Linked DNA regions of Homo sapiens: region 2 is linked to region 1. The links come from fine-mapping of genetic effects on gene expression. A gene starts in region 1. The other region holds a variant in brackets. All regions are shown on one strand. Distances are between the middles of the regions.

Region 1 (5,383 bases):
TAGTAGAGATGGGGTTTCACCATTTTGGCCGGGCTGATCTCGAACTCCTGATCTCATGATCTGCTGTTAGTGTATTTTATGTGTGGCCCAAGACAAATCTTCCAGCGTGGCCCAGGGAAGCCAAAAGATTGGACATCCCTGATTTAGTTTCTCCCACTCCTTTTGTGGGAAGCAGTGGAAAGCAGTCACCTATGTTTATGTTTTGATTTATCTTATGCCAAAACTTATTTTTGGCAAAGTCAGGGTAGTATAGGTCTGTGTTTACTTTTGTGAAGTAATTTTAAAGCCTCTTTATCCATCTCTGCATTCCCAAATGGATGTGGCTAGATGTTGAATTGTATCATCCTGTGGCTGGATTTTTTAATATAAAATTATGAAAAAGTTCTATGTAGAATTTGATTTGTAGCCTTTAGTACTTGGGGGAACTGATTTTTATCCTTTATCATTTCTATTTGGGTATGGCTCAGTGGTTCTCAACTAGGGCTTGGGGGGACAGTTTTGTTTCCCAGGGGACATCTGGCAATGTCTGGTTGTTACTACTAGGTGGGGTGGGGCATTGGCATCAAGTGAGTAGAGGTCAGGGTTGCTGCTAAGCATTCCGCGATGCTCTGGGCCATCCCCCACAACACATGTATCTGTCCCAAAATGTCAATAGTGCTGAGGCTGAGAAACCTTGGTGCTGTTGATGATTTCATCTGTGAAAGATAGCATGAATCAACTGTCCTTATGTATCAGTAGCCTTTTATGCCCATCACAAATGTAATGTTCAAATATAGTAAAGATGGTCTTGCCGGGCATGGTGGCTCACGCCTGTAATCCCAGCACTTTGGGAGGCCGAGGTGGGCGGATCACGAGGTCAGGATATCGAGACCATCCCGGCTAACACGGTGAAACCCCGTGTCTACTAAAAATACAAAAAATTAGCTGGGCGTGGTGGCGAGCACCTGTAGTCCCAGCTACTTGGGAGGCTGAGGCAGGAGAATGGCGTGAACCCGGGAGGCGGAGCTTGCAGTGAGCCGAGATTGCGCCACTGCACTCCAGCCTAGGAGTCAGAGTGAGACTCCGTCTCAAAAAAAAAAAAAAAAAAAAAAGATGGCCTCTCAGAAATAGTATAGACACCCATTTGAACCTTAATAAAGTTGAGCTTTTCATGGCCAACTTTTTTGGCGTGTAAAACATAGGACAGCCATGTTTTAAATGAAAAGACCAAAACAAGATTGAATAATGTTATAGAACAATGTACATCACTGGTCTGACATGACTAAATGATTGCCTACTTAGAGTATAATTGAAGAAAGATAAATGAAAAGGACTAAAAGAGTTGTATTCATGTATTTTCATACACTGGCATTCTACCAGGTAATATAAGCTCAGTAAAGTAAATCTTATGTTAATGTCTGTTCCTTGAGAGTTAAGACGACTCAAGGTCTTTATAGTGCTCTGATACACTGAAATCGATGAGCTGTATGTTGTGACTCAAGATTGTATTCTTACATGTCAGCTTTTTAATGTAGTGAAACAGTTCTTAACCAGGCAGTCATTCTAATTTGCCTGCATGCTAGGAGAAATTCCCATATTTTTGCATAAATCATTTGTTAAGATTTATTAGGCCACTTGTATAACTATATTTTGGCTTGTCTTTTCAATTGATTTTTAAAATTTACAAAATCGAACATAGCCAAGAATGAAGGCAGAGACCTAGAGTGATGAGGAAAACTAAAAATAAACCCATTTCACTTGTGTTGGCCAGCTGATAAGAGAAAATTGCCCAACTAGAGAAGGTTGATTCATGAAATATTTGGGTACTTCATCCAGAACCTAGGGCATCTCTTTTGTCCATTTCACTATGACTCTTCCATGATCAAGGATAGCCCACATTTTTCAGAAATGGGCACCACCTTTACCAATGCTTGAAATGCAAGTGAATGATCAGGAGGGAACCTTGCCATGGGACCTTGTCCCAGATGGAACTACCATGGCGAGTAGTCTGATGCTTCTAGTGTGACACTTACTTGGAGAGGCATCCAAGATAGGCCTTTTATTAAATACAGGCTTGGCCGGGTGCAGTGGCTCACACCTGTAATCCTAGCACTTTGGGAGGCCAAAGTGGGTGGATCACCTGAGGTCAGGGGTTCGAGACCAGCCTGGCCAACATGGCGAAACCTCGTCTCTACTAAAAATACGAAAATTATCCAGGCGTGGTGACGCATGCCTGTAATCCCAGCTTCTTGGGAGGCTGAGGCAGGAGAATCGCTTGAACCCAGGAGGCAGAGGTTGCAGTGAGCCGCGATCGCACCATTGCACTCCAGCCTGGGCAACAGAGTAAGACTCCATCTTAAAACTAAATACATACATACGTGCATACATGCATACATACATACATACAGCTTTAGGGTAAATTGTCTTTTTTTTTTTTTTTTTTGAGACAGAATCTTGCTCTTGTCACCCAGGCTGGAGTGCAGTGGCGCGATCTCGGCTCACTGCAACCTCCGCCTCCCAGGTTCAAGCAATTCTCCTGCCTCAGCCTCCTGAGTAGCTGGGATTACAGGCACCTGCCACCACGCCCAGCTAATTTTTGTACTTTTAGTAGAGACGGGGGTTTCGCCATGTTGGCCAGGCTGGTCGCAAACTCCTGACCTCAGGTGATCCGCCTGCTTCAGCCTCCCAAAGTGCTGGGATTACAGGAGTCAACCACCGCGCCCGGCCAGGTAAATGGTCTTTTTTAACTGGTCATATTTTAGATTTGGATTTAATCCTCTATAAACTTCAGAATTAAGAGAAAATGAAATGCTCCAGGGAGTAGTATTTCCCACTTAGAACATACAGCATATTTGCACTTCTTTTGTATGTCAAATAACTTGCTTTGTTTCTGTGGAAGCCAAGAAGTTTCTATCTTTCCAACCCTGCTTTCTAACATAAAATAGGAAAAATAGGGGTTTAGGAATATAAAATGTTTGGATATGAATCTTATCTGTTAGATAGTACTGAGTTATGTAGTTCTAGAACTATTGGATGTTTCTGGTTAGAAGGAAGTTTCTTTAGTTTATTTAACACTGCTGTGGAGTCAGCACATGCAGTCGCCAAATCAGTTAGATTAGAACCTACAGAGATCTCGGTAACAGGAGCACTGAGTGCTAGAAGGTTTAAAATAGATGTCATATGATACCAATTATAACTCAGTGAAATTTTACAGTCCTAGGACCCTATACAGAGCATAAGCCAAAATGGAAGATGGTCCTGTTTTCTATGGCTTTAAAAACATTTTTATTACAATGTTTGCTACGTTTTTTTTCTTTAAGCTTTTAATTAAAGTTTTTTTGGCTCTCCTAACCCATTTCTATATCGTCAAAGGAAATAGAAAAGAAGCGGCTAGGATAGCAGAAGAGATCTATGGTGGAATTTCAGGTAAAAGTACATGAATTTGTTCCTAATATTTAAAGAAAATCCCTCCTAGATAATTCATATGACTAGTATTTCTGGAAGGCAGATTATATTTATACTTTGATTTTAAGTGGGTAGTTTGAAAAATTGTCACTTAAAGTAGCAAATGCTGTTGGCTGCATCAATTTGTGGAGGATTTTCAGCTTTATTTTTTGCAAGTTCGTAGATCTTGTAGCAGTTGTTATTTAAGAAGTAAATAGGTAGTGGCTTACTAAGAGTATTTTGAGAAACTTCATTTCTACTAGCCAAAGTAATTACTTGTATATAATTATTTTCTTTAATATTTTAAAGCAAACTTTAACAATGAAGGGCATTCTAACCAGACTAAATTCTCTCAGGAAATAGAATGACTAATAAATTATAATTAAAGCAGCAAACGTGGCAAGCTATGTGTATTTTTTTTGCTGTCATTTGCAACTGGAATTGATTAACCACTTGTCACTGTCAGGAAAAGCTCTTCACTAAACCCATTTTATATGGTAGCATGCAAAGCACTCCAAACAAAGTTTATTCTAACATGAAATGCCAAGATTTGGGCAAAACATTTTAAATTCTCATGCTTTGTAGAGAATAGTGTCCATTTCTTTCAAGAAATGATTTACTTTAATTGTGGTGAGATGCTACAAAAGTAAATGAGTCAGATATCCCTGTCACTCCTGGGATTGTCACTTAATAGAGGAGTATTTATTCATAAACAGAGTTCAGAATTTCCCCGTGTATTTTTAGTGTTTGCAGGGGTTCCAGGATTACATCATTCTTTATCTAGTATCCATTTCAATTTGCATCCAGGATTCTCTTTCAAAATAGTCTTATGTGATTCCAATACACTAGACAACTCAGAAGACACTAGACAACAGCAGTCTTATCTAAAGAAATAAGACCTCCAAGGACGAAGCATCAGAATGCTTCAATTAACTGGGGAAAATGAGAAGAATTGTGAAGTTTCAGAACGTATCAGAAGGTCCGGACCATGGAAAGAGATTTCTTTTGGGGATTATATTTGTCACACATTTCAGGGAGGTATGTTACTTTGACTAGTTACAAAAAAAAAAAAAAAAAGTAATGCTTCTGATAAGTTTCAAGTTAAGCATGATCTGAAAAGTTATCTTCTAATTTAATTTGTCAATTTGGGCAAGGGCTTTCTAAAATTTTCAATAATAGTTTTGGTGTTCTCATAGATAAATCATTCTTCTGGTCTAAATTAGATGAAGTCCAACAAAGTCAATATTGGCAAGAACATGTTACAAATGTTTTCTCCTGTTGCACCTGCGCATTATTTCTGTCTTTGTGGTCTTTAATTAAGTGCACTCTTTTTTTTTTTTTTTTTTTTTGAGATGGAGTCTCGCTCTGTAGCCTAGGCTGGAGTGCAGTGGCACCATCTCGGCTCACTGCAACCTCCGCCTCCCAGGTCCCGGTTGAAGCAATTCTCCTGTCTTAGCCTCCTGAGTAGCTGGGATTACAGGCACACGCCACCATGCCCAGCTAATTTTTTTGTATTTTTAGTAGAGACAGGGTTTCACCATGTTGGCCAGGCTGGTCTTGAACTCCTGACCTCATGATCCGCCCGCCTCGGCCTCGCAAAGTGCTGGGATTACAGGCGTGAGCCACCGCGCCCGGCCTCAAGTGCACTCTTAAAAAAGGTATAAAACCTCCTTATAGTCAAAACCCATGTAAGCATGGTTTGAATTTAATCTGGAGCTGGAATACAAATCTCTTAAATACAGTTCGTTCATTCTGTAGTGCAAATATCTTTACTTGTTCAATCTCTTAAAATAGGTTAATTTGCAAGTAGCATAGTATTCTAAGGTCAAAAACATTTTTCAATTATTGTTAAAGAGGCAGGGAATGGTGCATGTTAATTTCCCAGTTTTATTTCTTTCATATATATATGTATATGTGTGTGTGTGTGTGTATACATATACACGAATCCCCCCACCCCCAA
Region 2 (5,383 bases), 33 kb after region 1:
GACTCTGCATGTCTAGCAGGCTCCCACGTGATGTTGATGGTGCTGGTCTGAGGACCACACTTTGCGTACCACTGGTCTAGATTATTATTATTGTTATTATTATTATTATTATTTTAGACGGAGTTTTGCTCTTGTTGCCCAGGCTGGAGTGCAGTGGCGTGATCTCGGCTCACTGCAACCTCCGCCTCCCGGGTTCAAGCAATTCTCCTGCTTCAGCCTCCTGAGTAGCTGCGATTACAGGCGCGTGCCACCACGCCCAGCTAATTTTTTGTATTTTTAGTAGAGATGGGGTTTCATCATGTTGGCTAGGCTGGTCTCGAACTCCTGACCTCAGGTGATCCACCCGCCTCAGCCTCCCAAAGTGCAGGGATTTCAGGCGTGAGCCACCGCGCCTGGCCAGGATTATTTTCAATAGTCTAGATCATTAATCATTGTTCTTTTATTTGAATCTTCACCAGAAGAATTATGATCTTCCTCAGCAGATCCGAGCTTGGAAATACCAGCTACTTTCCAACTGTTAGCAGAGACTATAGTTTATAGAAGTTTTCACATTTCCTATTTTCTTCCATCAAAAATGTTTCTAGGACTAGGATTTGTAGACCTGGATATCCTGGACAGGGCCTAGCTCCTCTGTCCTTTGTCTTCATAAATATAGCCACTTGCTCTAGAAAGATTAATACTGGCTGGGCGCGGTGGCTCACACCTGTAATCCCAGCACTTTGGGAGGCCCAGGCGGGTAGACCATGAGGTCAGGAGTTCAAGACCAGCCTGGCTAAGATGGTGAAACCCCGTCTCTACTAAAAATACAAAAATTAGCTGGGTTTGGTGGCACCCGCCTGTAATCCCACCTACCCGGGAGGCTGAGGCAGAGAACTGCCTAAACCCGGGAGGCAGAGGTTGGAGTGAGCTGAGATTGAACCACTGCATTTCAGCCTGGGCGACCGAGTGAGATTCTGTCAAAAAAAAAAAAAAAAAAAAAGAAAGATTAAATACCAACTACATCAGAGTTCACTCTCCTGTCAGTGTCTCTGGGCACTGGACAATTTGTCTACATTACCATTTTGCAGAGGAGGTTAAGTAGGACAACAGGTAAAGAAGTTTTCTATTCTTGCTTCCCAAGATTTTAACTAAGATCGATTGTTTGGTCCTCCAGGTAGCTTTCTATCTCATGGATGCTCCTTGGCAATGTGAAGCCAAATGTTAACCTGGCTATTCGCATATGCAGTCCATCATTTTTCATGGGGTGTGAGATGCTGTTACAGTGGATTTTTTTGAAAAGGAAAACTTTGTGTAGACCAGTAATTAGGTTTTCTTGAAGAGATCTTTACTGATAACAGTCAGGTTAGGAAATAATGACTGTGCAACTAGTATTGCAGCCAAAAGCTCATTCATCCTATTCAACCATATTCTGGACTCTCATCAGCTGATTTTCCTTAAGGATTCAGAGCCATTCAAAGCCATGGGCATGATGATTCTGTGAGACTCCTTGAGAGTCCATGAGACTCAGTTTCAGGGAACAATAGGGTCTGACTTGAGTCCTTCTTGCAGATCTCTATTGAGCTGGAATCCTTGCAAGAATAAAGGGCCTCTTCAGATTTAAGTTGAGACCCAGCCAGCACCACCTCATGGGCAGCTAGAGCCGGTAGGTCCAGGAGTACTTTGAGGGCTGAATATCTGGCCCCTGGCACATCTCCTAACACTGCCTCTGTCACCACGCAGGTGGAACTTCCCGCTGACACCCTTTCCGTATTGTCCCTCTGTTCTGTGGCTGTGTCTTGGAGTCCTGCGTGTTCAGTCCTTCCATTTGCATTTTCTCCTTGGCCAGTGTATTACTTTCTTTCTTTCTTTCTTTTTTTTTTTTTTTTTTTGAGGCGGAGTCTCGCTCTGTCGCCCAGGCTGGAGTGCAGTGGCCCGATCTCGGCTCACTGCAAGCTCCGCCTCCCGGGTTCACGCCATTCTCCTGCCTCAGCCTCCCGAGTAGCTGGGACTATAGGCACCCGCCACCACACCCGGCTAATTTTTTGTATTTTTAGTGGACACGGGGTTTCACCGTGTTAGCCAGGATGGTCTCCATCTCCTGACCTCGTGATCCGCCCACCTTGGCCTCCCAAAGTGCTGGGATTACAGGCGTGAGCCACCGTGCCTGGCCCCGTGTATCACTTTCATTGGCACATTCAATACATGAATGAGATGCATTCCCTTTAGACCCCACACCTCATTCCTAACTTGCCTCTGGTTAGCTTCATTCTTCAACATTGGTAATCCAAGTACCATTGGAAGATTAACTTAAAGAAATGCATCCCTTCCAGAGGGGCAAATCAGGATCTGCTGTCTGTATTTAGTGTCCGCTACCTCATTCTATAGTTCCTATACAGATCCAGCTTCTCTTCTGCTTTTAGAAAATTTCCGCCTCTTCCAGTTCTCTGATTTCCCCCTTCCACCCCACCTCCCACCACTATGAAGTTAACACCATTTTTATTTCTCTCTCAGGCCCACCTGCTCTTTCCCAGCTCTGCCGCCTGTGTGTCCGGAAGTGTCTCGGTCGAGCATGTCATCAAGCCATCCACAAGCTACATCTGCCAGAGCCACTCGAACGATTCCTCCTATACCAATAGTCCTAAGTGTTCCTGGGAAGATACTTGGAATGACACAGATTGTTGTCTGCTGTACCTAGAGTACCTAATGTAGAAGCTCAACAGCTTAGACTC[C/T]TAGTATCTTTAAATGAGCTCAGTCGAAGTAAATCCCCCATGAGCTAGAACACTTGAGGAGTGGAAACTCCTGGTTAGTTTAATGTTCTCATTAACCAAGGGGCAAGTAGAAACCATTTAGCTTTTAGCTCTTGTTGTTAAGAAACTTAAAAGAACTGTGAAGTAGAGTGAAAACAATAGGCTGTTTTTTGATGATTCGGGATCTTCTTGTACCTAAAAGTCAACATTCTGAATATTGTATAGACACATATAAATTCAGGTGGATAAGATTATAACAAATGTTAGGTATTCCAAGATATGTTCTTGATTTAGTTCCTTCCTTCAGCCCTTCCCCACTTTTTTTCTTTCTTTCCTTGAATAAATCTGGTATAATTTTGATTTTTTGTATATATATACGTATATATATATACATACATATACGTATATATATATACGTATATATATACACACACACACATGCACTCATATATTTAATGTTTTCAAAGTCCTTAATATATATAGTTCATATATGTTTTCAAAGTCCTTAATATATGTATAAAGCTTATATATATATGTTTTCAAAGTTCTTTATATATAAAGTTATATATATTTATATAGACTTTATATATATATACATATATAAAGTTAAGGACTTCAGAAACATTGTAGTTAACTGAGGCTTCCAGTTACTGCGGTCCTGGTTGATAAGAGAGACTTTGGAAGAGATCAGTGCACCCAGAGGTTGGCATCTATTGCTTATTGCTTCTGATATTAAATGCTGTTATTTGAAGTAAGCAGTTCTAGGATTGAGAACACTGGGTGTCCCCAACAACCTGAACCCACAGGCATTGTCTGAGGCATGTTGCAACCCAAGCACTGGCTTATTTTCAAAGTCAAGATGCTCAGGGTTTTTGAAATAATTACATACTGATGCCAGCCACCAAAGTGGGCTCAATGCTGGGTCAATATTTTTTTCTGTGGATAGGGGCCCAAAATAAGCACAAAGGTATATAAAAAGAGGCTTCTCCTTTTCTGTCTTCTCCTTCTTCTCATTTCTCTCTCCTTCTGTCACCCCTCCTCTTCCTCTATTCTTTCTCTTTTTTGTGAATTTAGAACATGGGAACTGGATAGACTTTTAATTATTGTAAGTATTACTGTCATGGTTCAGTATTCAGTTCTAAAATGAAAATTCCCTCTCAGATCATCCTAAGACTCATTTCACACATGTTTTTTTTTCCCCCAATTTTTCTAGACCTTTGGCTCTCAACTGGAGACAATTTTGCCCCACTCCCACTGAGACATTTGTCAATGTCTGCAGACATGTTTAGTTGCAACAACTGGGGGAGAATTGCTACTATCATCTAGACGGTGGAGATCAGGGATGCAGCTAATCACCCTACAGTGCACAGGAGCCAGCAACAAAGAATTATCAGATCTGGCCGGGCATGGTGGCTCACGCCTGTAATCCCAGCATTTTGGGAGGCCGAGGCAGGCAGATCGCACTGTCAGGAGTTCGAGAACCGCCTGGCCACTATGGTGAAACCCTGTCTCTACTAAAAATACAAAAGTTAGCCAGGCGTGGTGGCAGGTGCCTATAGTCCCAGCTACTTGGGAGGCTGAGGCAGGAGAATCACTTGAACCCGGGAGGCGGAGATTGCAGTAAGCCAAGATCACGCCACTGCACTCCAGCCTGGGTGACAGAGCGAGACTCCGTCTCAAAACAAAAAAAAAAAAAAGAAAGAAAGAAAGAAAGAAAAACAAACAAAAAAAAGAATTATCAGGTACAAAATGTCAATAGTGCCAAGAGTGAGAAACCCTTCTCTAAGCCTGTGCTATTCAATACAGTAGCTGCTAGCTACATATGGCTAATGAGCACAGGAATTGTGGATAGGCTGAATTAAGATGTGTTGTAAGTGTAAAATACATATTACATTTTAGTGATTGAGTAAAAAAAGAATATGAAACATTATGAACTTTGTTTTGTTTTCTTTTTTAGACGGAGTTTCACTTTTGTCATCCAGGCTCGAGTGCAATGGTATGACCTTGGCTCATTGCAACCTCTAAGCCTGTGCTATTCAATACGGTAGCTACTAGCCACATATGGCTAATGAGCACAGGAATTGTGGCTAGGCTGAATTAAGATGTGTTGCACGTGTAAAATACATATTACATTTTAATGACTGAGTAAAAAAAAGAATATGAAATACATGAACTTTTTTCTTTTCTTTTCTTTTTTGAGACGAAGTTTTGCTTTTGTCACCCAGGCTTGAGTGCAATGGCACGATCTCGGCTCACTGCAACCTCTGCCTCCCAGGTTCAAGCGATTCTCCTGCCTCAGCCTCTGGAGTAGCTGGGATTGCAGGCATCTGCCACTATGCCCGGCTAATTTTCGGTATTTTTAGTAGAGATGGGGTTTTACCATGTTGGCCAGGCTGGTCTCAAACTCCTGACCTCAACTGGTCCACCTGCCTCTTCTTTTTTTGTTTTATTTTTTATTTTTTTGTTTTGAAATATTAATAGCTTTTGATGTTGTATTTTTAATTTTTTGAAAACTTCCATACTGTTTTCCATAGTGGTTGTGGTAATTTACATTCCCACCAATAGTGTATAAGAATTCCCTTTTCTCCACATCTGCACCAGCATTTGTTATTTTCTATTTTTTGGATAGCCATTCTAACTGGGGTAAGATGATACCT

Alleles and levels. Alleles are on the strand shown, and positions count from the first base shown. SD is a standard deviation of normalised expression in the study named.
In carriers of allele T in region 2, the expression in left ventricle of the gene that starts at base 3,190 in region 1 tends to be higher than with C alone (small effect, 0.23 SD a copy in GTEx).

The links. PIP is the estimated chance that this variant, and not a neighbour inherited with it, causes the effect.
Region 2: its variant is the best candidate, but not a certain one, in a credible set for the expression of ASB11 in left ventricle (GTEx, PIP 0.89).

What each region holds. Positions count from the first base shown.
Region 1 is chrX:15,313,447-15,318,829 of GRCh38, reverse strand. ASB11 (ankyrin repeat and SOCS box containing 11) reads left to right here and starts at 3,190. Exons shown (of 7, transcript NM_080873.3): 1 at 3,190-3,405. The coding sequence starts at 3,225.
Region 2 is chrX:15,280,737-15,286,119 of GRCh38, reverse strand. ASB11 (ankyrin repeat and SOCS box containing 11) reads left to right here. Exons shown (of 7, transcript NM_080873.3): 7 at 2,491-4,423. The coding sequence ends at 2,615. Among named protein-coding and RNA genes, the nearest start is that of ASB9, 13 kb to the right of the region's middle. The variant C/T (reference allele first, on the strand shown) is at 2,709.